Linked DNA regions of Homo sapiens. The protein of the gene in region 2 interacts with the protein of the main gene of each other region in a pairwise test. Each region holds a gene or a part of one and is shown on either strand. Other genes may lie near its edges.

Region 1 (7,000 bases), about 16 Mb from region 2:
GTCCAGTTTCTTCCCCTACCCTGATTTTGTAGCTGAAATATGCACATTCTATGGGTACTGACGCTCTAACTAGAAGGGTCAGGCAATGCATTCTCTTTTCTCTTGGGGAGTTCATTACAGACCCCCAAATATGGAGACACATCATTGATACAAGACTTGAAATATATAACTTGTTGATTATTGCTAAGGTACTGACTAAAGACAATTTTGAAACAAAAGTAGGAAGAAAAAATAAATCTCATAATCTCACTACCTAAAGACGGCCACTGTAAAGTAAAAGTTATAAAAATGTTTACCATCATTGCATGCTTACTATGTGGCAGATACTTTGCTAAGAGAAAAGTATCCTTTATGCTTTGTGTCATTTCATCCCCACCACAACTCCCTAAGTTAGATATTCTCCTCATTTTGGAAATGAGAATATTGAGGCTCAGAGGAGCAGGTGATCACATCTGGTAGGTGGTAGAGCTGCAATTTGACTCCAGGTCTCTTTGTCTTCAGAGCTGTTTCTTTATTACATGGTTACAATGATAATACATCACTTTTTAAAAAAAAAATTCACTTGCCATTGACTTGGCATACATTAAAAAAATTTGTTTAATTCAGACAAAACAGACATGAACGGCTTTGAAAGTTCATCATAATGGAACCATCTGGAGATAACCACTGTTAACATATTTATGTAAATTCTTGTTCTGTTCATATATGAATGTCTTTATATAAACATACATACACATGGGCTAAATACTATATGCTATGTTCTTTGGCTTTTTTTTTTTTTCATTTAGCAGCATTCCATCCTAGTATGATTTATCTCACGCCTTCCTTCCCCGTGCTTACCAGCTTTCTGCTGTTTGGACACGTCATGTGTGTTTAACCATCCCCTGATGAGGGTTGTCTGGGGTGAGATCCTTCGGGGCAGAACAGAGGAGCCTTGTGCAAGTGACTTATTGAGAACGTGCTCTCGGAAGGGAAGGAGGAATGCAGCCTAGGGTGGGGTACTGCTGAGCGAGGATGTGGGCTCAGCGGCTGTCCAGTTCAGTGTGACCCCGCGGGGAGCTCTCGAGCATGAATTGCTCCACAGAATTCATCCCACCTGAGGCAAGGGCGCTGTGGAGCATCCATTCCACTGGCAGTTCTCTGTAGAAGGTGGTGGTGTGAACTCTTAGCCACTAATAAGGGGCATCTGGCAGCATCCACCACGAGACTGAGTCCCAGTTTTCACAATTTTAAACCCCACTGCAATAAACATTCTTATACATGTATCTTTGGACATATTTATTCAACTTTTTCCCCGAGAATAAATTCCTAGAAATAGAAATACTCAGTCAAATAGATTTTATCTTTTTTTATTTTTTAATAGAGACAGGGTCTTGCTATATTGCCCAGGCTGGTCTTGAACTCCTGGGCCCAAGCAATCCACCCACTTTGCCCTCTGCAAGTGCTGGGATTATAGTTGTGAGCCACTGTGCCTGCCATTTTTTTTTTTTAAATATTGAGCTCAGCTGGGGGAGGTGGCTCACGCCTGTAATCCCAGCACTTTGGGAGACTGAGGCAAGCGGATGACCTGAGGTTGGGAGCTCGAGACCAGCCTGACCAACATGGAGAAACCCCATCTCTACTATAAATACAAAATTAGCCAGGCGTGATGGTGCATGCCTGCAATTCCAGCTACTCGGGAGGCTGAGGCAGGAGAATCGCTTGAACCCGGGAGGCAGAGGTTGCAGTGAGCCGAGATCATGCCATTGCACTCCAGCCTGGGCAACAAGAGTGAAACTCGTCTAAAAAAAAAAAAAAAAAAAGAACAATATTGAGCTCAGCTCATCTGTATAGTATTTCAGAATATGATACTGAGGGTGCTTTATTATGTATTTAGGTATAACTATTCTTTTATATTTTTAAGTAGGCAGTACACTTTCTTGTTAAAAACAGTTACAACAAAACAGTGTAAACAATTTCCAACCCTCCTCCTTTATATGTCCCATGGTCACTGCTGTGGTGACATGTCTCCTTGGCATGTCTCCTTGCAGATTTTTCAATGCATGCAAAAACACATACTTATTTTTTAATATAGAAATGGGGGCCGGGCGCGGTGGCTCACACCTGTAATCCCAACACTTTGGGAGGCTGAGGCGGGCAGATCACTTGTGGTCAGGAGTTTGGGACCAGCCTGGCCAACATGGTGAAACCCCATCTCTGCTAAAAATACAAAAATTAGCCGTGCGTGGTGGCTCATGCCCATAGTCCCAGTTACTTGCGAGACTGAGGCAGGAGAATCACTAGAACCCAGGAGGCAGAGGTTGCAGTGAGCCGAGATTGCACCACTGCACTCTAGCCTGGGCAACAGAGCAAGACTCTGTCTCAAAAAAAAAAAAAAAAAATATATATATATATATATACACACACATATATATAAAATATAGTTATATAATATATAATATAAATGGGATCTTAGAATACCTATTCTTCTGAATCTTACTTTCCCCTCCAATTAATTTATACTGGATTTCTTTTTTTCTTTTTTTTTTGAGACAGCATCTCACTCTTTTGCCCAGACTGGAGCACAGTGACATGATCTCAGCTCATTGCAAACTTCACCTCCACCTTCAAGTGATTCTTGTGCCTCAGCCTCCCAAGTAGCTGAATTACAGGCACACGCCACCATGCCTGGCTAATTTTTGTATTCTTAGTAGAGAAGGGGTTTTGCCATGTTGGCCAGGTTGGTCTTGAACTCCTGACCTCAAGTGATCCACCCTCCTCTGCCTCCCAAAGTGCTGGGATTATGGGTGTGAGCCACTGCGCCCGGCCTATAAGTGGATTTCTTTCTGTTCTTAGCACATAAAAAGTGTCCTTTATGTGTCCGTTGAAAGAATAAAAAAAAATCAGTGTCCTTTTTAGACAGCTATTTAGGATTCCATTGACTGGCATGAATCACAGCACCCAAGTGACCCCCAGTACTGCCTGGTAGCCATGTCCATCTCCCTAGTTCATTCACTATCTCATGCTACTCTCTTAATGACTTTGGCAACCCCTCTTCTCAAACCTCCAATACCTCCTTGCACAACCTCATTCTCAGCTAAAGACCTTGCTTCTTATTCCACTGAGAAAAATAGAGTAACCAGAAGAGAACATCTGCAAGCATCCTCCGCCACATCTGTCTACTTGCTTGCATCTGCACCCGTGTTTGTGGTTTTCCTTTCTGATATGGTGGATGGACTCTCCTCATACCTGCCTGGTGCCAATTCCTCTGGCTGGGCTCTGGAAACCCAGCTCTCCTGTCACTCCTGCTCAAGGACATTCCTTCAGCAATTCTCCCCTCTCTCTATTGCATTGTCAAATGTTCCCGTCAGTTAACGCACATGCTGTTATTTCTCCATTTTTACAAACAAACAAACAAACCCCTCTTGATCCCATAGCTGTCTGTAGCCAGGATCCTTTAAAGCCCAACTCTTCCAAGCAGTTGTCTATATTGTTCTTACCAATCCTCTCTTTCTCTCTTTTTGACATTTTATTAGTCAATTTCCAAAGACACATACAAGTAGGGAGTACATGGTCCCTCCTTCATTCCTAAATTTCAAAGCTAATACCAAAAAGCATGTCATTTCACCCCGCAAATTCTTCAGAATGCATCAAAATAATAAAAGGGCATTTCCTTACATGCCACAAAGATATTAGCATACTGAACAAAATTTGCAGTAATGATTTGATACCATTTAATAAGCGGTCTGTATTCAACCTTCTTCAGTTTTCTAGTTTGTTTTCATCAGCATCCAAACAAGGGCCACAGTTTTTATTTGGTTGCTATGGCTCCTAAATCTCCTTTAATCTAAAGCAACCCCTCTGCCCCTTTTTTCCATGTCACTCACTTGTTTGAAAAACCAGGCCAGTTGTCCTGTAGAATGTCCTGCGTCCTGGATTTGGCTTATCGCTTCCTCATGGTGTGGTTAAACTTGTTCTTCTGTCCATTTTCTCTTGAACCCTCTCCAGTTAGGCTTTCACACCCAAACACTCCATAGAAACTGCTTTAGTGAAAATTACCAATGACCTTGTATTGCTAAATATAATAGTGGATTTTCAGCCCTCATCTTCCTTGACACATCAGCAGCACTTGGCTCTGTTAGTCTCTCTATCATACCTGAAATGCTTTCATCATTTATTTCCAGGATGCCATCCTCTTTAGTTTCTTCCTATGTTGTGGGCTGCTCCTGCCCAGGCTCCTGGCTTGGTTCCTCCTCACCGCCTCACTGTAAATGTTGGAGGCCCCAGGCTCCGTCTCTGATCCTCTTTACCTATTCTCATTTCTTTATGATCTCATCCAGCCTCCCAGCTTAAAATACCATTTATGGAGCTGGAATATGAACGTATGTGTATCTGATTTTAGAGATGGACTAGGCAGGCCGTGCTGCCCACACAGGGCTCTCACCTGCCAAGGTCCTCACCATTCTGTCCCCTCTGTCCTGCAAAAGGCTTCCTTTGTTGGCCAAACGTGAAAGTTTGAATTTGGCTGGTAGGAAACGCACAAAGGATAGGGATGGGTCTCAAACTACTAAGAACAGCCATCACCCTGAAAATCCTCTAAATAGCTGTAAAGACTAGTTCCAACTATGAGAAAAGAAATAAATGTAACGTTCTTCATTGAAAAACAACAACAAATACCAGTAAATACCAGTAAAAGCTCATGATGCCCAACATTTCACCTCCAGGTCAGTTTTCTCCAGATTCACACATCTATCTCCCTCCTCAGCACCACTACTTAGATGCCTACAAGTCTCCTCAAACTTAGTGTGCCCAGTTTTGGAGACAATTAGCAGAGTTTGGATATGGACTAGATATTAGGTAAAACAAAAATTTGTTCACTTGGAAATGTGGAGATCTTTAACTTGTAAAGATCTTGATAAAACAAGTTACAGGCCGGGAGCGGTGGCTCACGCCTGTAATCCCAGCACTCTGGGAGCCCGAGGGGGGGTGGGGGGCGGATCACAAGGTCAGGAGTTTGAGACCAGCCTGGCCAACATGTTGAAACCCCATCTCTACTAAAAATACAAAAATTAGCTGGGCGTGGTGGTGCGCACCTGTAATCCAGCTACTCACGAGCCTAAGGCAGGAGAATTGCTTGAACCCGGGAGGCGGAGGTTGCAGCGAGCCGAGATTGTGCCATTGCACTCCAGCCTGGGTGACATCTCAAAAAAAAAAAAATTACAAAACATGTATGCTATAATTTTATTTTGGTTAAAACCTCATAGGAATATAGTCATTGAAAAAGATATGAAAGGACATACACTAAGGTGTTAATAGTGGCAGTCTCTGGGTGATAGATAATGGTATTTTTCTCTTTTTTGTCTGATATCTGTATTGTCCAACTTTCCTCAGGGCCCATATATGCTTTTTTTTTTTTTTTTTTTTTTTTTTTTTTTTGATGGAAAATCACTCTGTCACCCAGGCTGGAGTGCAGCAATGCAATCTCGGCTTACTGCAACCTCCACCTCCTGGGTTCAAGTGATTCTCCTGCCTCAGCCTCCAGAGTGGCTGGGATTACAGGCATGCGCCACCTACGCCCAGCTAATTTTTCTACTTTTAGTAGAGATGGGTTTTTGCCATGTTGGTCAGGCTGGTCTCGAACCCTTGACCTCAGGTGATGCGCCTGCTTTGGCTTCCCAAAGTGCTGGGATTACAGGCGTGAGCCACCGCGCCTGGCCCATATATGCTTTTTTATAATAATAAAAGGCTATTTTAAAGTTAAAAGAACACAGGTCTAAAACTGAACTCCTGATCTTTCCCAGAACCTTCTCCTCCCTTTGCCTTCCCCATCTCCGTGAATGGCTGCTCTATCCTTCCAGTGGCTAAGGCCAGAAACCTTGCAGTCATCCTCTCTCACTCATTGCCCATACCCATGGCTTACCTTTAAAAAATATCGAGAATCTGACCATTTCTCACTACCTCCACCATTATGGGCAAAGACCTGCATGGGGAATTCATGCAATAAACACAAATGGCCAAAGAACTTCGGAAACAGTGCTAAACTTCACTGAGCAACAAACACATGCAAATTAAACTCTGAGGTGTCATTTTTGCCCATCAGGTGGGCAAAGATTTCAAACAATCATGACACCCGGTGTCGGCAAGCTTGGTGAGAAACAGGCATTCTTACACACAGCATGCCATGCTTCGAGAGGTGGGGCCTGGAGTGTATGGGGGATGGGGTGGTGAGAGCCCGCTCTGGCCTTTCCTGGCAGTCCCTACGCTGGACCTGGGCAAGAAGCTGAGCGTGCCCCAGGACCTGATGATGGAGGAGCTGTCACTACGCAACAACAGAGGGTCCCTCCTCTTCCAGAAGAGGCAGCGCCGTGTGCAGAAGTTCACTTTCGAGTTAGCAGCCAGCCAGCGGGCGGTGAGTAAGCCACCATTGTGCTCATGGGGAAAATGAGGACCACAGAGAGCCACTGGTTAGCCTAAAGTCAAACGGTAAGCCAGGCTGAGGACTGTGATGTTCCCATCAGATTAGGCTCCTGCCTTTCAGTGTGATCCTTGAAAAGTGTTATCTTTTTAGGCATCTCTCCCTGGATACAGAACAAAGTAAACAAAGTGGATTAGGGGGTTGAGGATAAGCCGTGGAGTGAAGGGACTCTGGCTCCTACCAAAAAAAAAAAAAAAAAAAAAAAGCTAAGACAGGCATGCACTCTAGGCTAAATTTGCAGCAGGCTGGATCTAGTTTAGACTTGGGCCTGATCTAAGATGGAAAATGTAGAATGCCCTTTTTTCTTCTTCCCACCGGAGAAAGGAAAGGCCATGGAATAATCTGCTGGTGGAGAAGAAAGGCAAGAAGGGTTTTTCCCTTGGCTTCAGAAAGGCAGCAGGCAGTTCCAGATACTTCTAAGGAAGCCAGGGCTATTCCATCCACCCTCCACTTAATTTCTGGGCTAGACAGGAGGCAACTGAGAGGGAGTGATGTGGCAGAAAAATAAAGATGGCAAAACACCCGCCTTTGCTATGTGCCTAAGAC
Region 2 (4,038 bases):
GGGTGCGCGCCTAAGGGCACCCGCGCAGAGGGCTCCCGGGCCGCCTCTGCTGCAGCCCTCCAAAGCTTAGACCCACAAGCAGAACTTCACTCTCCCACCATTCAGACCTGCTCCCTCCCTCCACCGGAGATCCCCACCTTAGGCCCTGGCCCACTAGCGTCTGCCAGGCCTCCAGGCGCCTCGGACCTTCAACCCCTTTGACCCTCATCCTACCTGATCCTCGGACTAAGGCAACCCCAGCCCAAAGACCTGTGCCCCCAGGGGACTCCCCCATGCCCTATGGGGCCCAGGACCCACTCAGATGTTAGCAGGATACCCTGGGCCAGAGACTGGGCAGTGGATTCCCTGCCGCTGGGGACCTCGGGAGCTGTTGGCCTTATCCCGAAAACGAAAGGGAAAGGCAGGTCCTGTCTGGCTGCCTCGGAGAAGCCTGAAAGGTGCCTGGGTTTGGGGCTCTCAAAACTTCCTGGAGCAGTGGTCCCATCTCATAAGCAGATTCTCTAAAAGCTCAAGATATTCTCCACCCTCCCCAGCCATCAGTAGGACCCTTTGCCTTCTGCCCTTTCCGGAAGGTCTCCCGTCAGGTGAGGTGGGGGGTGGCTCCGGGAGCCAAATGTCCTTCCCAGTCCCTTTTAGGATATGCCATCTCAGACCCAAGACCAGCCTGCATTCTCCCTCTTCTCACCCGTTTGGTTTCCAGTAAAAGCAAGGCTTTCCTGCCAGGGTAGCAAGAGAATCATTTCTTCCCTGGGGGCGTAAATATTTAATCAGATATTGGGAGCACCTCCCAAGTCGACCAAAATCCCAGCTGGCCCACAGACTCCTTACCATAACCCCAGCCCTCACCCCTCCCTAGGCAGGCTGGCCAGCCCAGTGGGACTTGGAATGAAGACACAGCACTCAGTAATCCTGAACTCACTAATCCTGCCCAGGTTTATGGTGGTAGGGGTGGGTGGGGGTGGAATCAGGTAGTGTCAGTGCTGGGGACTAGGGAAAGCTGAGAAGCAGGGATCTGGCAAACTAGCTCAGGAAACTCCACTCAGAACTGGAGGAAAATCCGAGTGGGCAGAGGGCATGCGGTAGGCAGATAGGTAAGGATGGGGGAGGACTAGGAGGTTCTTACCAAATTTGGGGGGAGAAAAGGAAGGGCAGGAAGATTAGAAGAATCTAGTAAGAATAGAAAAAATTTAAATATTTGTGGAGAAACATATTTGGCATATATTTAGGCGGCAGGAAAGAAATTAAATAGGAAGCAAAAAGATCAGGTATTTGAGAAAAAGAATCAACTGTTTAAGGGGAACAGTGCAGGTCAGATATTTGGAAAGGATTCAAAAGCCTAATATTTGAGGACGATTCAAAAGGATCAAAAATGGGGGATAAACAAGAAAACAGACTGAGGGAGAAGAAAGAGGTTCAGACAGTGGGGTGGACTGAACGAAAATAAACATTTGGAGCCAAAAAGAAAACATCAAATATTGCCGATAAAGATGATAACAAACTATTTGAGCGATGAAATAGATCGAAGAATTGGGGGAGTCGGAAAGTCCTATGTCTCAGGGAGGAAAAATACCTTTTGTATTTGAGGGAGAATAAAAAGACTGAAATATTTAGTAGATAGAGCGAACCTGTTTGGGGGAGAAGGCAGAGGTGAACTGGTTGAGAGAGGAAGAAAGAAAACGAATATCTGTTAAACGAGAATCCGTATTCGGAGAAGAAAACGGATATAATTTCGGGAGAGGATAAAGATCGGAAAAAGAAATTAGTATTTTCTGGGGACAGGAAAGGAACCATTGTGGAGGGAATGCAGGAGCGGAAATATCGGTCGAAGGAGAGAAACGACGTTCGGAGGGCAGCGGGCCGACGGAAGGCTCCAGGCGGTGGGGAAGGGGGTGGGGTCCCTCCCGGCCCGCAGCGGCCCTGACCCTTCTCCCGTCCCCTCCCCCAGGTCTGGTTCAAGAACCGGCGAGCCAAGTGGCGTAAGCGCGAGCGTAACCAGCAGCTGGACCTGTGCAAGGGTGGCTACGTGCCGCAGTTCAGCGGCCTAGTGCAGCCCTACGAGGACGTGTACGCCGCCGGCTACTCCTACAACAACTGGGCCGCCAAGAGCCTGGCGCCAGCGCCGCTCTCCACCAAGAGCTTCACCTTCTTCAACTCCATGAGCCCGCTGTCGTCGCAGTCCATGTTCTCAGCACCCAGCTCCATCTCCTCCATGACCATGCCGTCCAGCATGGGCCCAGGCGCCGTGCCTGGCATGCCCAACTCGGGCCTCAACAACATCAACAACCTCACCGGCTCCTCGCTCAACTCGGCCATGTCGCCGGGCGCTTGCCCGTACGGCACTCCCGCCTCGCCCTACAGCGTCTACCGGGACACGTGCAACTCGAGCCTAGCCAGCCTGCGGCTCAAGTCCAAACAGCACTCGTCGTTTGGCTACGGCGGCCTGCAGGGCCCGGCCTCGGGCCTCAACGCGTGCCAGTACAACAGCTGACCGCCCCGCCGCACCACGCGGGCCGGCGGCCGGAGCGGGGAAGGGCGCGGGCGCGGGCGCGGAGGACGCACGCGGGGCCCCGGCTCGCAAGCCCCAGCTCACCGCGCCGCGGACCTCACACCTGCGCAGCCCCCTCCTCCCACTTCCCACTCCGGGTTGGTTTTGTGTTTGCTTTTCCGGACCCCACTCTGCCCTCCAAAAAGACAAAAAAAAAAAAAAAAAAAAAAAAGCAAAAAGACGTCGGAGAAAAGTGCCGCGAAAAAATGGATGAGTTGCAATTTCTCTCGGGATGGCGCGGGTGGTGTGTGTGTTCCCACGGGCCCCGGAGGCCCACTCCGCGGAGGGCACGCGGCGCGGTAGGCGAGCGCCGAGGCCCAGCGGCCGGGGGAGGACGACCTCGTATCCCGCGTCCCCGCCGCGCTGGATCCGGACTGAGTGGCCGGGCCTGCGGACTGGATGTGCGGGGCCTGGACTTGCCTAGGATTTCCCGACCCCGTACAAACCAAGTTGCCCTCTCCGAGCTAGGCCCGGCCGAGAGCGCCTTAGCTCGAGTCGGATCCGTGTTGGGGCGGGCGTTGGGTTTGGGGGGACGGTGCCCCCAGCCCAGGATCGGGCACTCAGTGGAGCCGCACACGGCCCCGGCGCGCCTGGTAGAGCCTCGCTGGCCCCGCGCCCCGGAGCCCTATATTAAGGCCACGGAGCGACAGCGGGCAGTGCGGGCCTGGCGGGAGGTGGGGGAGGTCCATCTCAGAACACCCCAGCCTTGAGCTTAGCTGCAGGCCCAGGCCCTCTGCTCTGCTCCCGGGCTAGGAGGTGGCCCTCTGTCTGGGCGAACAGCCCCCTCCTCACCGCCCGCCGTGCAAGAGTCGAGCCGGCAGAGCAAGGGGCGCGGCCCCAGGGCCCTGCGCCCACTTTGCACACCCGCTCTCCGGCCCGCGCCCCTGTTTACAGCGTCCCTGTGTATGTTGGACTGACTGTAATAAATCTGTCTATATCGACTTGTCCATGTACGTCTATTAAAACCATAGTCCGAGCGTGCTAAGCACTGCTGAGCCCCGACTGCTTCATTGGGCTGAGGAGGGAGGCGGATAGAAAGGGAACTGTGGGTAGAAAGGGAACCGGGCCCCTTGGGTAGGAGCAGAGCGCCGAGGCAGCCCCCGCCGAGGTCTGCCTACCCCGCTTCCCCACCACCATTCTTGACCTGCTCAGCCTGGCTCCCATGAGGGCACCGTCCTGCGTTGCGAGCCTGTCCGGTGCGCACCCGCTAAGCTGTGCCTCTCGGCGTTGTCCGCGGGACGCCTTAGCGAGAACCCCCTCCCTCCGCGGCTGCGGGACTCTACGGGTTTCTTCCCAGGCCGGGTCTGCGGTGACCCTCGAGGCCCCAGGGTGCTATGGGGCCCTTGCCTGCCAGGAGCGTTCGGGCAGGGGCTGCTGAGAGCCTCTTTATGCCTGGGGTTGCCTTTTCTTCTGTGGGCCCAGCAACAGCCCCTCTTCTCTCCTCGGAGCCAGGGCCAGGCTATTCCAGGAGGACTGAGGGGGCTGGATCTATC
Region 3 (7,889 bases), on a different chromosome or scaffold from region 2:
TCCCAGCTACTTGGGAGGCTGAAGCAGGAGAATCGCTTGAACCCGGGAGGCGGAGGTTGCAGTGAACCGAGATCGCGCCACCATACTCCAGCCTGGGCAACAGAGACCGTGTCTCAAAAAAAAAAAAAAAAAAAGCCTCCTTTTCTTGTTTGCAATTAGGTAACGTTTTACGCAACGTGGCACTTCTGTCATAGAAAGTAGGATGGGTGTAGAATACCGAGAAGTAGAAGAGTTGTCAAATTTGATTACTTGATCATTTATTAAGAATTATCAGATTTGATAACTGGAAAAGGGAGGGACCTTTCGAAAGAGACCCAGAGTCGGCATCAGCACAGGCCAGAAGGAAAGGAAGCAATCACTGGGAGGGGAAACCTCGCGCGTCTGCACATGAATGCCCGTTACCATGCCTTTTCTCTCCGAATATTCCGATCCATACAACTGGATCAAGTTTTCGATTGCTGTCTCTGCCCAGAATTGCCCTGGTGTTTGGAGCACTTTTCTGTCTTCATCTCGACTAGTGAAGAATAAATGAATAAACTAGGGGTTGGTTTACGGCATGGTGAACCCAGCATACTCTTCTTTTCCACCACCTGAAGTATTGCCCCCACCCACTCACCAGAGCTCTTGGGCATTCCCCAAGAGCAGTGACTGAGTGACTAGGAGAGGTTAGGAGCTTGGAAGAATCACACCACAGGAGGTCCTTGGACTAGAAGACGTTTCTGAACCATTAGAATCCGAAGTGACTGTGAAACTTAGACCCTGCTGTAAAAGGGCCCTGAAGGTTCCCTCTGTGGTTGTCTCTAGAAGACCCCAGGCTGAGTGCCTCTCGGAAGCCTACCAAGTGGAGGCACTGAGACGGTTGGGGATTCTCAAAATGGTGGAAGGGGGCCCGAGGGCAGATGGAATAAAACACCACTAGATAAGTCGCAGGAGTCCTTTGGTTACTATGGATTCTCTGAAGGCACCTCTGCTCTTCATGTTCATCCAAAAAAGGAGTGAAAGGGCAGAAGCTGGAAGCAGTAAGGAGAGGTGCTGATTTTCATACCTACATATCTTGTTTTGCTTTGTGGAATGAACATCATTCACCTATATGGGATCCTTAGTGCCCCACTGTTCTTTCAAAGACAGGGTCTTTGTGACCATGGAAATTGTTTCCTATTGTGTAAATTCATGTCTGGTTATACAGCTGCACCTCCCACTGGAGCAGAACATGCTAAATTTCATTCTTAGACAATGTACACACATGTTTGCCTAAAAGGCATAAGTATAAGAGATTCAATCCCATCTCTATCTATCTTTTGTTAAAAAGGAAGGAAAGGAGGGAAGCAAGGAGGGAGGGAATAAAAGAAAAAAAACAGGGAAAGAAAAAGAGAAGAAATGAAGGAAGAAGAAAGAGAGAAAGAAAAAAAAGGGGAGGGAGGGCAAAAGGGAGAGAGCAAAGAAGATATTCTGGTTGATTCATGTGTCTAAATACATCCAAGAAAATATTTTTGTTTCAAAATGCCCAAAATAATTCCAATAATTATTCCACTTTGCTCAGTATTATATAGGCAATTTTGTGGGAGAAGTGTATTCAAGCAATAAAAAAACAAAATCAATTTGCAATAGCAAAGGAAACCCTAAGTACCAAAAGAAAGAGAAAAAAAGAAAGAAACCTGAAGAAATACATGTTTATTAAAGCTAGGGATAGGCATGAGTTCGTTTGTAATTGTTCACCAACCTCAAACACACAGTGGAGTGGCAAACTCTTTCAGTGAAGATGTTTGAGATTGGGTGAAAACTGTAAAGATGTTTGAGATTGGATGTTGAGATTGGAGTGATTTGTATAACGCTGGCCTAGAAGCCCAGGAAGGAATTTGCAACTACCCCAAAACTCTTCCAGCTCTGGATTCTAACCAAGACAATAATGATATATATATATATAAAGATTTCTTTGCAGATTCCTAAAGTGACTGCCATAAGACATTCCTTCCTGGCATGTGGAGCATGGAACCAGAAGGAAGAACAGGAGAACTAAGTGCTGAGGAACAACCTTTTCAGCTTTTGGGGTGCAAGGCCAGCAGCGTGTCCACCATGCTCTTGCCGGCTATTTTGAGTGACTGACGCCGGCCTGGCCTCTGACTGAGGCTGGAATGCACACCACGGGTTCCCTGTTGGAGGGGGCCCCAGGCAATAGTCACCAGAGTGCTGTGGCCAGTTAATTCAATTATGCCACCCGCTGGAAAATGAGTGACCAATCACTCTCTGGAAAAGAAGTAAAACAGAGAAAGAGGAATCAACTTTGCTAAAAAGCCCAGTCTTTGGGTCAAGTCAGACGACACTTATTAATTGCTCAAGACTATTAATTGGATGGGGGGGTGTCTGACAGAAATGAACGCTACACACACACACATCACATCACACACACACACACACACACAGGCACCAAACACACCACACACCTGCCTCAATGAGTTTCTTTAGAAAAGGGGCGCGCTGAGCAACCCCAGAGCAGATGGAAGGGAGCGCTGACCAATATGTGCATATGGCATGGATGATTTCCTCAACTTTGTTTCTTTCAGGGGAAAACAGCTTTTTTATTTTTTTAAGTTGGAATGAAGTGGGAGGGAGCAGTTGGCCAAATGAAGTTTCCCTGCAGTTCAGATGCTGGTGTGGGAAGCCAAGACATAGGGTTAAGAGGGATGCTTTCTAAGGTAGTCAAGGGCCCTGGCAAGGGAAATCTCAAAACTAAAAGAGAGCCATTTTATCCTTCCTGCTTCATTTTCCTTAAGTACAAATGAAAGGGTCTTTTCTCACTCTTCAGGATCTTTAGTTTCCCCTCATGTCCACAAGAGTTCAACAAGCATGTAAGTTAAACCCTGGACACTCTTTGTTTGGATACCTAAAAGTCACTCAGGAAAGTGAACCATGAAAGTGGGGTTAGGGGGTGGAATGCGATGATTGCCAGTTAGTTGGTGATGTCCTGATGTTCACAGGGTCCAGGCTACTGGAGGTCATTCCATGGGGTGTACTCAGTTCAAGGCCAGAGCTCATTACCGAGAGTATCATAAAGCTATATCTTCTGAGTGCGGTGGCAGGGGTGAGGGGGGCTATGTGTGGCTCTTATTCCAGACAGGGACAAACATGTGGAACAAACACTCTGGGCCAGCAGGCAGAGCAGGCGGCCACATCTTCCTGAGCTTCCTCATTGTTGTTCCCCGGGGAGAGGGTTTTGTGTCTGCTGCCTGGACCTAAACTGGGAAGAGAAGGTACCGTCACCTTCAATGAAGGTGTATCTGACAGTAGGGGTGTTGGAAAGGAGATTGCAACATGTCTGAGAAGGGCTATCCTCTTCCATTTGACCGGGACTAACTGGGAAGCCAATATCATCCACCAGGAAAAGCGCACCTGGGCATTCCCCAAGATAACCTGCAAGTCCTACATATTCTTCCAGGGAATGGTCTGCACTTTCCCAGGGGCAGGGGTGCCTGAGTTAAGGTCGTGGGGGCAGTCTCCATCTCCCAGAGATGATTAGTTATTTTCTCCGTGGGTAAGCTATGGAGGCCCCACTCAGACCTGGTAAACAAAGACTCCACTGCAAACATTTTTGGGATTCAACCCCTAGAGCCAACAGCACTCATTTTACCCCTTTTACTTAAAGATTAAGTTGGATATTCTTCCTTTTTGTCATCATTGGTCTCTCAGTCTCCTTACTTCATTAGGCCAAAATATGGAATTTCAAGGAGGGGTGGGAGGGGGGCAGCACTGGCACACCTTGAAATAGGGAACAAGTGTTGGCTGCTGACCCCATGTGGGGCTGAAGAATCGTGTATCTCCATTTCAGACAATGCATTTCAATTCTTGTCGTGTGCCTTTGTCCATTTGTATAAAGCAAAGAGCTCTGAGTGACAGCCCCAGTTAGCCTGCATGAGCAGATCCTAATAAACCCTCCCAAACCCCAACCTAAAAAAAAAAAAAGCCACATGCCTGTTTGCCTGAGGCTTATTATTAAGACACCTTCTCAGCTTAAACACTTAAAAGCAAACCAAATGAAATGGCAATTAAGACTGAATTACCCCTTCTATCTATGAGATGAGTCTGTGGGGCCAGCCAGTTCTTTCTTATAATGTAGACACTGAGGAGCAAAGCCTCAGTATTTCAGGTTTATAGCTACCACCACCCCCTCCAGGCACTAAACAACTTGGTGGAGGAAGCTGAATTTTGAAGGAAGGAAAGCTCAAAAACTGTTTGAAAGTCAAGAAATCCACTGAAGAGATGGAAATATGTGTGCACTGCTTCCTTCCTGCCCTCTATTTATAAAATATAACTTCCAAGCATTTAAGGGTTATTTTGGGGGTAATAGTGTTCAAAAACCTAATGCTACTGCTGAACGGTCTACACCCCACCACCACCAGCAGTGTTTCCAAAAGGGAAGAAGAAAAACACAAAAGAGGGGGGATATGGTTTGGTTTGGGGAGTGAAAGACAACAGTTTACCTAAATGTAGAATCTTGTCTTACATCTTTATTCCCTTGCATTTTTCCTAAATGCATTGCCAGTTACACCATTTCCTGATGATGGAAACTTGGGACTGTCCATCACCATTATTTATTTTTAAAGCTGCTGAAAAGTGTAAGCCACCGCTTGATTTTGCCTTTCAAAAAAGGGGAAAGAACCCAAATTCAATGTAAATATGGAAAGACCAGCATTGTTTCCACTTGGGCGAAGGCAGACACCCCAATCTGGGCAAAATTGATTCGGGTGGTTGTTGGAAAAAGCAGCTTTCAGCATCCAGGGAGTGGAACCAATAGGAATGAACACTTCCCCATATAAAAGGAAGCTTTAATTAATATATATTTCTATCTCTAATATACATATATTGGAGCTAGAGCTCTAGCTTCACAATAAAATGTGTGCAAATACTCTCCACAGAGATAAGTCCCCACCTCAGTCGGTATAGAAAAGCATGATAAAGGTTGGAAAAAATGGATAAAAATGTTGAAAGAACCTCCAGTTCCTTATTAGGCGAAGATACAATATTTATTCCTTGTCTCCTGGGATAAATCTCTTCTGCCTATTGTCCTCCCAGTTCTCAGTGCTGATGCTTAATTTTCAAAACTTCTATATTACCAAGGGACCTACGACATCAGCCAAAGAAATACTCAGCAAGTACAAAATCTGTTCCAGGGAGCTGCTTTTGTGCAGAGGGAAAATTTTGTTCCTACAGGTTTTTAAGTGGGTACGAGGCAAGGAGCTATCTGATCCGGGCAAAACCATTACAATTTAGATATCTACCTATAGAACATTTTTTTTTTCCTTTAAAAATTGGAAAATACAAGAAGTTTGGATTTTTTTTTCCCGATTCTTTTTTTGGAGGGGGAAATTGCATCGTAAGCTTTCGGAGAAACCCAACATGTCAACTACCTTTCCGGGACTAGTCCACGATGCCGAGGTATTATTACTTTTTTTTTTTTTTTTTTTTGAGCGCGCGTGTGTGTGGCGGCGGCGGCGGTGGCGGCGGTGGCGGCGGCGGTGGCAGCCTCCCCTGTCTCTAATCTATATTGGACCGTTACGTTTAATTATAATCTGTCTTTCGGGGGAAGTTAAGGAAGGAAAGGGGAGAAAGTTCGTTATGACATCTGTCGCCAGGGAGGGCAACTCTCTGCCACGTTAAGAAACATTTGCCATAATGAGCGGGAAAACATAATCTTAATAATAAAAGGGGGGAGTGAAGAGAAAGAGATAGAGACGGAAAGAAAGATTCTCAGAAAAGCAAAGAAAAGGGACTGGTGGGGAAGCAGTAGATGCACAAGGGGGATGGGGAAAACGCACCCCTTTTGGAATGGGCTTATTCAAGGAAAGGGAAGCAGAAAAGAGGGAGTCGGATTCCCTCCCTCGAATGACTAAGGAAGGGAGCAAGTTGAACGATTTGCACAGACTGGATTTTTTAAAATATATGGACAATGATTTTGAGCAGCCCGGGCCGAACATCTCGGCATAGACAGGCGCAGAATTTCGATGCTGGGGTCTAGTTAGAGTGGCAAGGCGCCCCGGGCCAGCGCTCTTTTCGGGTGGACTCGTTCCTCTGCTACCCGCGGCCCCGGAGTCAGTTGCAAACCTGGATCCCAACGCCAAGCTCCCTGCACAAGTTGGGCAGGGGCTGTGTGTGTGTCTGTGTGTGTGTGTCTGTGCGTGTGTGTGCGTGTGTGGTGTCACCCGCACCTATATAGGGTGGGGGATTTTTTTTCCGCTCTCTCGACTGTGAGGACGAGGCCGCCCACCCCCAGTTCGCCTGTTTGCAAAGGCTCTCTGGTGAAGACGCTGAGACCCGGCTTCGGCTCGGCCCGAGTCCTACGCGCTCGCTTTCCTTGGAGTGCCAGAGAAAGCTCCTGGCTCCGGGAGAGCGGCGCCTTGGTTGCAAAATGACAAACCTCAAGTTTTTCTGCTCTCCCTTTTCCCCCTCTTCCTTCCAGATACGTCACGACGGATCAAACAGCTACCGTTTGATGCAGCTTGGCTGTCTGGAGTCAGTAGCCAATTCCACTGTCGCCTATTCCTCCTCCTCTCCTTTAACTTACTCCACCACCGGCACCGAGTTTGCGTCCCCCTACTTCTCCACTAACCACCAGTACACCCCGCTCCACCACCAGTCCTTCCATTACGAGTTTCAGCACAGCCACCCGGCCGTCACCCCCGACGCCTACTCTCTGAACTCTCTCCACCACTCGCAACAGTACTACCAGCAGATCCACCACGGGGAGCCCACCGACTTTATTAACCTGCACAATGCGCGGGCGCTCAAGTCGTCCTGCCTGGACGAGCAGAGGCGGGAGCTGGGCTGCCTCGATGCCTACCGCCGCCATGACCTGTCCCTCATGAGCCATGGCTCTCAGTATGGAATGCACCCAGATCAAAGACTCCTGCCAGGGCCCAGCCTGGGGCTGGCCGCCGCGGGAGCAGACGACTTGCAGGTAAATAAGCATGCAGCGAATTTGTCTGCTCCCTCCCCTCTTCGCCCTCCCCCTGCCGCCCCATTAATGCTCCGACTGTAAAGCGTCTCTCTTTCTCTCTCTCTTCTCCTCTCTCTCTCTCTCTCTCTCTCTCTCTCACACACACACACACACACACACACACACACCACTTATGGAAAGTTATCAAAACAATTAGAGGAGGAGTGTGCCCGTTCTCTTCCTCTCATTGGATCCAAGCATTTCACCTGGAAGTGCGGGAGTCCGGGCGGCTGCGGCCCTCCATCTTTGGTTTGTCCTCACAGAAGTCTTTTGTGAATCAACATTTGTGACCCTGAGGGGATGAGGTGGAGGAGATCGAGGAGTCTGGGGTTGGGCCAACCGGACTCAGAGTAAGATCCAATAAATTGATGACCAATCGTACCCTCAATCTCCGCACTTTACAGGGTCTTCCGAGGCGTCCCAGGTGTTTGTCTCAGACTGAGCTTGTGGAGATCTTACTACAAACAGGCTTGTTCTAAGGAAATTGTTGGGACCCTAAGCTTGAACAAAAGTTTCACCAAATACACTAGATATCTGTGGAAAGTAAAGAATCGCAAATGAAAGTCTCAAAGTTCTACCCCAAGGAAATAATCCGCACAGTGCACTTTGCCAGGGTGTAGGGTTGAGTTTAATTCTCTCCGCCTGACGTGCACTCAAAACCGCAGCCCAGTTAGGTAATTTACAAGTTTATTTTTGCTCTTCCAGCCATTACATTTTACGTAAAATGCACCTCCTTAAAAAGATAAAAATGAGGCAGTAACGGTAATGAAAGAGGGAAAAAATAAAGAAGGAAGGAAGGAAGGAGAAAAGGAAGGAAGGAAGGGAGAAAAAGAAGAAGGAAGGAAAGAAGGCAGGTATTCAGACACTGTGGAGGCCATCACTCAATCAGATGATCTCTCTT
Region 4 (7,043 bases), on a different chromosome or scaffold from region 2:
GCCTGGACAACAGAGTGAGACTCCATCTCAAAAAAAAAAAAAAAAAAAAAAAAAAAAGAAAGCCAGAACACTTGAAAATAAGTGAATGAATCTTTCAACTCAGGGAGATAGTAAAATGAGAATAAAACATAAAAGGAATTGATGAAGATAAGAGGGATAGGGTCAGTAAGAAAAGTAAGGGGTAAAGGAGTGAGGGAGTGCACAAGAGAACACTATTTTGTTTTTTGAGATGGAGTTTCGCTCTTGTTGCCCAGGCTAGAGTGCAATGGTATAATCTCCGCTCATTGCAACCTCTGCCTCCCGGGTTCAAGCACTTCTCCTGCCTCAGCCTCTGGAGTAGCTGAAATTACAGGCATGTGCCACCACGCCCAGCTAATTTTGTGTTTTTAGTAGAAGCTTGGTTTTACCATGTTGGCCAGGCTGGTCTCGAACTCCTGACCTCAGGTGATCACCTACCTTGACCTCCCGAAGTGCTGGGATTACAGGCGTGAGAGACTGCTTTTTGCCTATGAATTAAGAAAGCTCTTGTGATACTTAAGGTTCAGATATCTAGTTTTTTTTGACAATATAGTGTAAAGTTGGTAGGTATAGAGATTGTTAGAATCGTTTTGCAGGGCATTTTGGCAATACCTGCTGAAATAAATTATGTTTTTATCCTTTGATGTGGTATTTTCAGTCTTTGGAATTTGCCCTGTGGAGATGTTTACATAAGAGTGTAAGGGTAATAGGGATGTTAATAGCATTCTTTTCTTCTTTTTTTTTTCTTGAGATAGAGCCCCTCTCTCTCATCCAGGCTAGAGTGCAGTGGTGTGATCTTGGCTCACTACAGCCTCGACCTCCCAGGCGCAAGCTATTCTCCCACCTCAGCCTCCCAAGTAGCTTGGACTGCAGGCATGCGCCACCATGCCCGGCTAATGTTTATATTTTTTGTAGAGCTAGGATTTCACTATGTTGCCCAGGCTGGTCTTGAACTCCTGGGCTCAAGTGATCCCCCTGCCTTGGCCTCCCATAGTGCTGGGATTACAGGTATGAGGCACTACATCCGGTCCCCAGCATTCTTTTTAATGTTGAAAAATTGCTAATCTAAATTTTTTACTCATATCGTGGAATATTATATAGCTGGTAAAAAGGAAGTAGATCTGTGTGTATGCCATGAACTGACAAAGCAAGTGGCAGTACATTTCACATTTATTAAAAAGTAAAGTAAAAAGTATAGTATAGATTATGTTTTAAATATTACATATCTATTATGTATGTAATTTTTAAAAATATATATTCCTAGTGCATGTCTCAAGTGGTTTGGGGCAAAGCCTGAAGACTTGTTTTTTAAACAGATCTTTTCAGGAATTCTGATGCCAGCCCAGGTTTCAGAATCATTGCAATGTTGGATTGCCTTAAATAAAGTACCCTTTTTCTTTTCTCCAGGGCCTGGAAATTTACACTCCAAGATTCTAGGACAAACACAGTAAGTTGCTAATGGCAATCACCAATAATTTTTTTTTTTTTTGACAAGGTGTCACTCTCACTCAGGCTTGAGTGCAGTGGTGCTGTCTCACCTCACTGCAGCCTCTACCTCTCGGGCTCAAGTAGTCCTCCCACCTCAGCCTCCCCTTCCCAGTAGCTGGGACTATAGGCCCATGCTACCACGCCCAGCTTATTTGAAAAAATTTTTTTGTAGAGACGAAGTCTCACTATATTACCCATGCTGGTATCCAACTTCTGGGCTCAAGTGATCCTCCCACTTTCGCCTCCCAAAGTGCTGGGATTACAGGCATGAGCCACCACACCCGGCCACCAGTAATGTTTTCACATGGTCTTGTGTAACAATTGGAGAATGGGGAAAACGGGTTTCTTGACCATCTGGCCACGAATGGGCAGGTAGTGCTGGGCAGGGCGCCTTTTGCCAACAGTGAGCAAGCTGGGTTTGTCAAATGTTTGGCAGGAGGCACCCTGCTCTTACAGGCATGCTTGTTCCAGTGTTGCTTTCTAGAAATGCTTGTATTTCTCAAAGTTCTGCAACACTTTGAATTGTGCTGTGGTTTGCAGTAAAGGCTTAGAAAGAACTGCAGGATCCTTTTCACGCATGGGAGCTCAGCCTGTGAAACAAACATTTTTGTGACTTGTACTTGTCTCTCGTCCTGTTTCTGGCCTTAGGAGGTCACTGAGACAGTGAACCTCATTTGTAGAGCCTCGTAATGCTGTCTTTATCTGTCAGTGATCAAGGGAGTGTGTTACTCTGGTCAGAGTTTTCATTCTTTAGATGGGATTTTTCTCTCCTTTATTAATCTGTAAGAAAAGAAGAAGGTGGATCAAGCTTACAGAAGAATGTGTGCATGTGGGAGAAGAAAGTAAAAGGCTTAATATCCTAATAGCGTCAGTGTTCTCTTCCTTTGTTAGCACACAACAACTTCATTCTAAGCTTACTCTACAGCCGCAGTTACCTTTTCTTCATGAAAATCCCCCTTTTTTTTTTTTTTTTTGGGTAAAATTAGCATTAACAATCCATACAGTTAAGGGCAAGCTCCCCAAATGATTCTTTGTGTGGATTTTTTTTTTTTGAGACAGTCTCACTCTGTCGCCCAGGCCAGAGTGCAGTGGAGCGATCTCGGCTCACTGCAACCTCTGCCTCCTGGGTTCAAGCAGTTCTCCTGCCTCAGAATCCTGAATAGCTGGGATTACAGGCACGTGCCACCACGCCCAGCTAATTTTTGTATTTTTAGTAGAGATGGGGTTTCATCATGTTGGTCAGGCTGGTCTCAACTCCTGACCTAGTGATCTGCCTGCCTTGGCCTCCCAAAATGCTGTGATTAAAGGCATGAGCCATTGCGCCTGGCCACTTTTTCTTTTTTTTTAAAGAGCTAACATGTTTTTCTTTAAATTATACTGGGGAGTAATTTAATGAAGAATTTTGTTTTTTAAGGTAAAAAACAGACTTATGTATAGGACATATCTCTTGATACATTTTAGATTGTAGAGTTTTTATTTGTGAATAAAGGACTGTTGAGAGTGCTGTAACATCTTTATTTTTTTGGAGACAGTCTCGCCTTGTTGCCTGGGCTGGAGTGCAGTGACTTGATCTTGGCTCACTGCAGTCTCGAGCTCCTGGGCTCGAGTGATCCTTGAGACTTAGCCTTCTGAGTAGCTGGGGCCATAAGCACCATGCCCAGTTAATTTCTTGTTTTTTGTAGAGATGAGCTCTCCCTCTGTTGCCTAGGCTGGCCTTGGAACTCCTGGGCTCTAGTGATCCTCTCACCCAGCCTCCCCAAAGTGTTGGGATTATAGGTGTGAGCCATTGCACCTGGCCTGATGTAACATCTTTTAAAAGGCATTGGGTAACAGTGGGGCCTCTGAGTGCCTTCCTGGCTGTGAGAGCTGTAGTCCTGTTAGGGGCCGAGTGAGGACCACTTTGCTCTTGCATTTAGAGGATACCAGAATAGGGGTGGGGGCCCCCACTGGACTGGGGGAGTTTTTCCTGTTTTGCAGAGAGCTATGTATCTTTTTGTTTTTTTAAATTTTTAATTTGCTAAATAAAAGGGACAATGCACAGCATCGAGCACACAGCTGCTGGGAAGCTGTCCTGTCCTCACCCTCTCCTGTCTCCCGCAGGCGTATGTGGGCTCTGCAGTCATGACCGATGAGACATCCGTGGTTTCCTCACCTCCACCATACACGGCCTATGCTGCACCGGCCCCTGAGGTAGGGAGAACCCTGAGCCTCCAGGTGAGGGAAGTTTGGGGTCTCTGCTGCTGTCCTGCTTTGTTTTGTTTTTTTAAATGAAATTAGAAATGTACTCTAAACCTTTTCTTCTTAAAACAGATGATTTCTTATCAACGTTTGTTTTCATGAAATGAAGCAACTATTTTATATAGTTCAGCACATTATAATGTGCTGTATTAATGTGTAACACGTTTTTAAGATAGATCTAAAAATGCATCATGTTAATGATAGTTGCCTTGGGTAATGAGATTTTGATGATCTGTAGTTTATATGGAATGAATTATTTGAATTCTCCTTATAGTCAGAAAAAAATGCTATATTTTAGGGAAAATAACCTTAAAAAATCATGTCAAATACATTGGGATGTCCTCTTGTTGGGGTGCTGACTGAGCTAGTGGAACGTATGTAAGTCTGTTGTGTGGAACACGCAGCTTTTAAAAAAATTGAATTTTGAAATAATTATAGATTCACAAGAAGTTGCAAAGATAGCTTTGAGAGTCTCATGTGCTTTTTATGTGTTTTCCCCATTTGTTAATATTCGATCAAATTAAACCCAGGAATTTGGAATTGGTGTGGTATTTAAGAGTAATCCTGTGTCATTTTCTCATACGTGTAGATTGTGTAGCTACCACCTCAATCAAGATAAAGAATTCTTCACAAAATCTTCCTGCTGTGACACCCTTTAATAGTCATGCCATCCCTCTGCTTCCCTAAACCCTGTCAATCACTGAACTGTTCTCCAGCTCTATAGTTTTATCATTTCAACAATGTCATATAAATGAAATCATATAGCACGTGGTCTTGGGAGTTTAACGTTTTTCACTCAGTATTTGCCCTTGAGATCTGTCCAAGTTGCTCTTTGTCAATAATCCTTTTTATTGCTGAGTGGTTTTTTTTTTTTTTTTGGGATGGAGTCTTGCTCTATCGCCCAGGCTGGAGTGCAGTGGCTCGATCTCGGCTCACTAAAAGCTCCGCCTCCTGGGTTCTCGGCATTCTCCTGCCTCAGCCTCCCGAGTAGCTGGGACTACAGGCGCCCGCCACCACGCCCGGCTAATTTTTTGTATTTTTAGTAGAGACGGGGTTTCACTGTGTTAGCCAGGATGGTCTCAATCTCCTGACCTCATGATCCGCCCACCTCGGCCTCCCAAAGTGCTGGGATTACAGGTGTCAGCCACTGCACCCGGCCCTTTTGAGATGGAGTTTCGCTTTTGTTGCCTATACTGGAGTGCAGTGGCACGATCTCGGCTCACCACAACCTCCACCTCCCGGGTTCAAGCGGTTCTCCTGCCTCAGCTTCCCAAAGAGCTAGGATTACAGGCATGAGCTGATTTATTGGCTTTTCCTTTTCTCGGTTGTGCTTTTGCTGTCAGGTTAAAACTTAACATGACAAACCTAGCCCAAGTTTCCTAAGATTTTCTCCTACATTATTTTCTGAAAGTTTTATAGTGAGGTTTTATAATTATTCTGTATTAATTTTGAATTAATTTTTTATAAGATAGATGTCTTTTTCAGGGCTCTGTTGAGTGTATCTCTTTCTGAGGTCTGTGGTCTGCTCCATTGTTCTGTATTGTTACCTTCCTTTGATCCCACACAGTCTTAATTATTGCAGCTATTATAAAAAGTCTTGGAACTGGGTGGACTGATCAACACCCTCTTTGTTCCTTTTTGGAAATGTTTTAGCTATTCTGGTTCCATTAGCTTTCCATATACATTAGAATAAATTTGTTTATATCTACAATGAAATCTTGCAAGGCTTTTGCAGGAATTGCCTTAAACCTGTGTCATATTTATTTGGAGAGTAATGACATCTTTATTGAATGTTGAATCTTCCAGTTATAAACATGGACTGCATGTGTATTTAGATCCTCTTTGATTTTTTTCATCAGCATTTTGAGGTTTTCAGTATAAAAATCCCATACATGTTTTGTTAGATTTATAAGTGTTTCAGTTTTTTTAGTGATTGCATATGGTATTACATTTTTAGTTTTAGTTTCCTTTGTTTACTGCCAGTATAGAGAAATAGAATTGATTTTTGTAGGTTGATCTTGCAGCTTGTAAACTTTCTCTTTTTTTTTTGAGACAGAGTGTCTCTCTTATTGCCCAGGCTGGAGTGCAGTGGCGCGATCTTGGCTGACTGCACCCTCCGCCTCCTGGGTTCAAGCGATTCTCCTGCCTCAGCCTCCTGAGTAGCCGGGATTACAGGCACGTGCCACCACACTAATTTTTTGTATTTTTAGTAGAGATGGGGTTTCACCATGATGGCCAGGCTAGTTTCAAACTCCTGACCACAGGTGATCCACCTGCCTTGGCCTTCAAAGTGCTGGGATTACAGGCATGAGCCATGGTGCCTGGTCGGCGCCTGTAAACTTTCTAAGCTCACTTACTCTATTTCCTTTTTCTGTAGATTCTTTGGGATATACTACATAGGCAATCATGTCATCTACAAATAGGAATCTGTTTTCTTTGTAACCTTTATGCCTTCTGTTTCCTTACCTTGCCTTGTTGCCTTGGTTAGACCTTCAAATATTATGTAGAATAGCAGTAGTGAGAGAAGACATCCTTGCCTTGTTCCTGATTTTAGGGGGGATGTATTCAGTGTTTTTTTTTGAGATGGAGTCTCGCTCTGTCACCCAGGCTCTGGAGTGCAGTGGCGAGATCTCGGCTCACTGCAAGCTCCGCCTCCCGGGTTCACACCATTCTGCCTCAGCCTCTCTAGTAGTTGTGACTACAGGCACCTGCCACCATGCCCGGCTAATTTTTTTATTTTTTTTATTTTTAGTAGAGACGGGGTTTCACCATGTTAGCCAGGATGGTCTCGATCTCCTGACCTTGTGATCCACCCACCTTGGCCTACCAGAGTGCTAGGAATACAGGCGTGAGCCACCGCGCCCGGCCAGTGTATTCAGTTTTAAGTATGCATTCATTTATTATGAATGTACTGTTTAATTCAGTATTTAATTAGTACTGAATTCAGTATTTAGTTTTACATATGCATATATTTAGTATTTAATGCATTCATTAAGTATGCTGTTAGCTGGAGGTTTTTTATATTTATTCTTTATCAGGTTTAGAAATTCCCTTTTTCTAGTTTCCAGGAGTGTTTATCATGACTGGTTGTCAGTTGCTTGCCTGCCTGTCTTCCTGCCTCCTCCCTCCCTCCCTCCCTCCCTCTCTCCTTTCCCCCGCCCGTCCCCTCTCCTCCTCTCCTCTCCTCTCTCCCCTGACCCCCTGAGAGATGAGGTCTCACTCTCTTGCCCAGGATGGAGTGCAGTGGTACTATCATTAGCTCACTTCAGCCTGGAATTCCTGGGCTGAGGCAATCCTCT

What was found.
Region 1: the proteins of PITX1 (region 2) and MYOZ3 interact in binary tests that used the Homo sapiens proteins (3 or more experiments, as listed by UniProt).
Region 3: the proteins of PITX1 (region 2) and TFAP2D interact in binary tests that used the Homo sapiens proteins (3 or more experiments, as listed by UniProt).
Region 4: the proteins of PITX1 (region 2) and PLEKHB2 interact in binary tests that used the Homo sapiens proteins (3 or more experiments, as listed by UniProt).

The regions. Positions count from the first base shown.
Region 1 is NC_000005.10:150,664,251-150,671,250, forward strand, and holds part of MYOZ3 (myozenin-3), read left to right. Parts: intron 1-1,263; exon of another isoform or gene 1,264-1,781; intron 1,782-3,866; exon of another isoform or gene 3,867-4,022; intron 4,023-4,135; exon of another isoform or gene 4,136-4,348; intron 4,349-5,072; exon of another isoform or gene 5,073-5,180; intron 5,181-5,899; exon of another isoform or gene 5,900-5,959; intron 5,960-6,233; coding exon 6,234-6,388; exon of another isoform or gene 6,389-6,557; intron 6,558-7,000. UniProt on the Homo sapiens protein: Myozenins may serve as intracellular binding proteins involved in linking Z line proteins such as alpha-actinin, gamma-filamin, TCAP/telethonin, LDB3/ZASP and localizing calcineurin signaling to the sarcomere.
Region 2 is NC_000005.10:135,027,229-135,031,266, reverse strand, and holds the end of PITX1 (pituitary homeobox 1), read left to right. Parts: intron 1-1,945; coding exon 1,946-2,488; 3' UTR 2,489-3,533; downstream 3,534-4,038. UniProt on the Homo sapiens protein: Sequence-specific transcription factor that binds gene promoters and activates their transcription. May play a role in the development of anterior structures, and in particular, the brain and facies and in specifying the identity or structure of hindlimb.
Region 3 is NC_000006.12:50,708,665-50,716,553, forward strand, and holds the start of TFAP2D (transcription factor AP-2-delta), read left to right. Parts: upstream 1-4,861; 5' UTR 4,862-5,391; coding exon 5,392-5,430; intron 5,431-6,451; coding exon 6,452-6,949; intron 6,950-7,889.
Region 4 is NC_000002.12:131,129,296-131,136,338, forward strand, and holds part of PLEKHB2 (pleckstrin homology domain-containing family B member 2), read left to right. Parts: intron 1-1,425; coding exon 1,426-1,465; intron 1,466-3,606; coding exon 3,607-3,696; coding exon of another isoform or gene 3,697-3,720; intron 3,721-7,043. UniProt on the Homo sapiens protein: Involved in retrograde transport of recycling endosomes.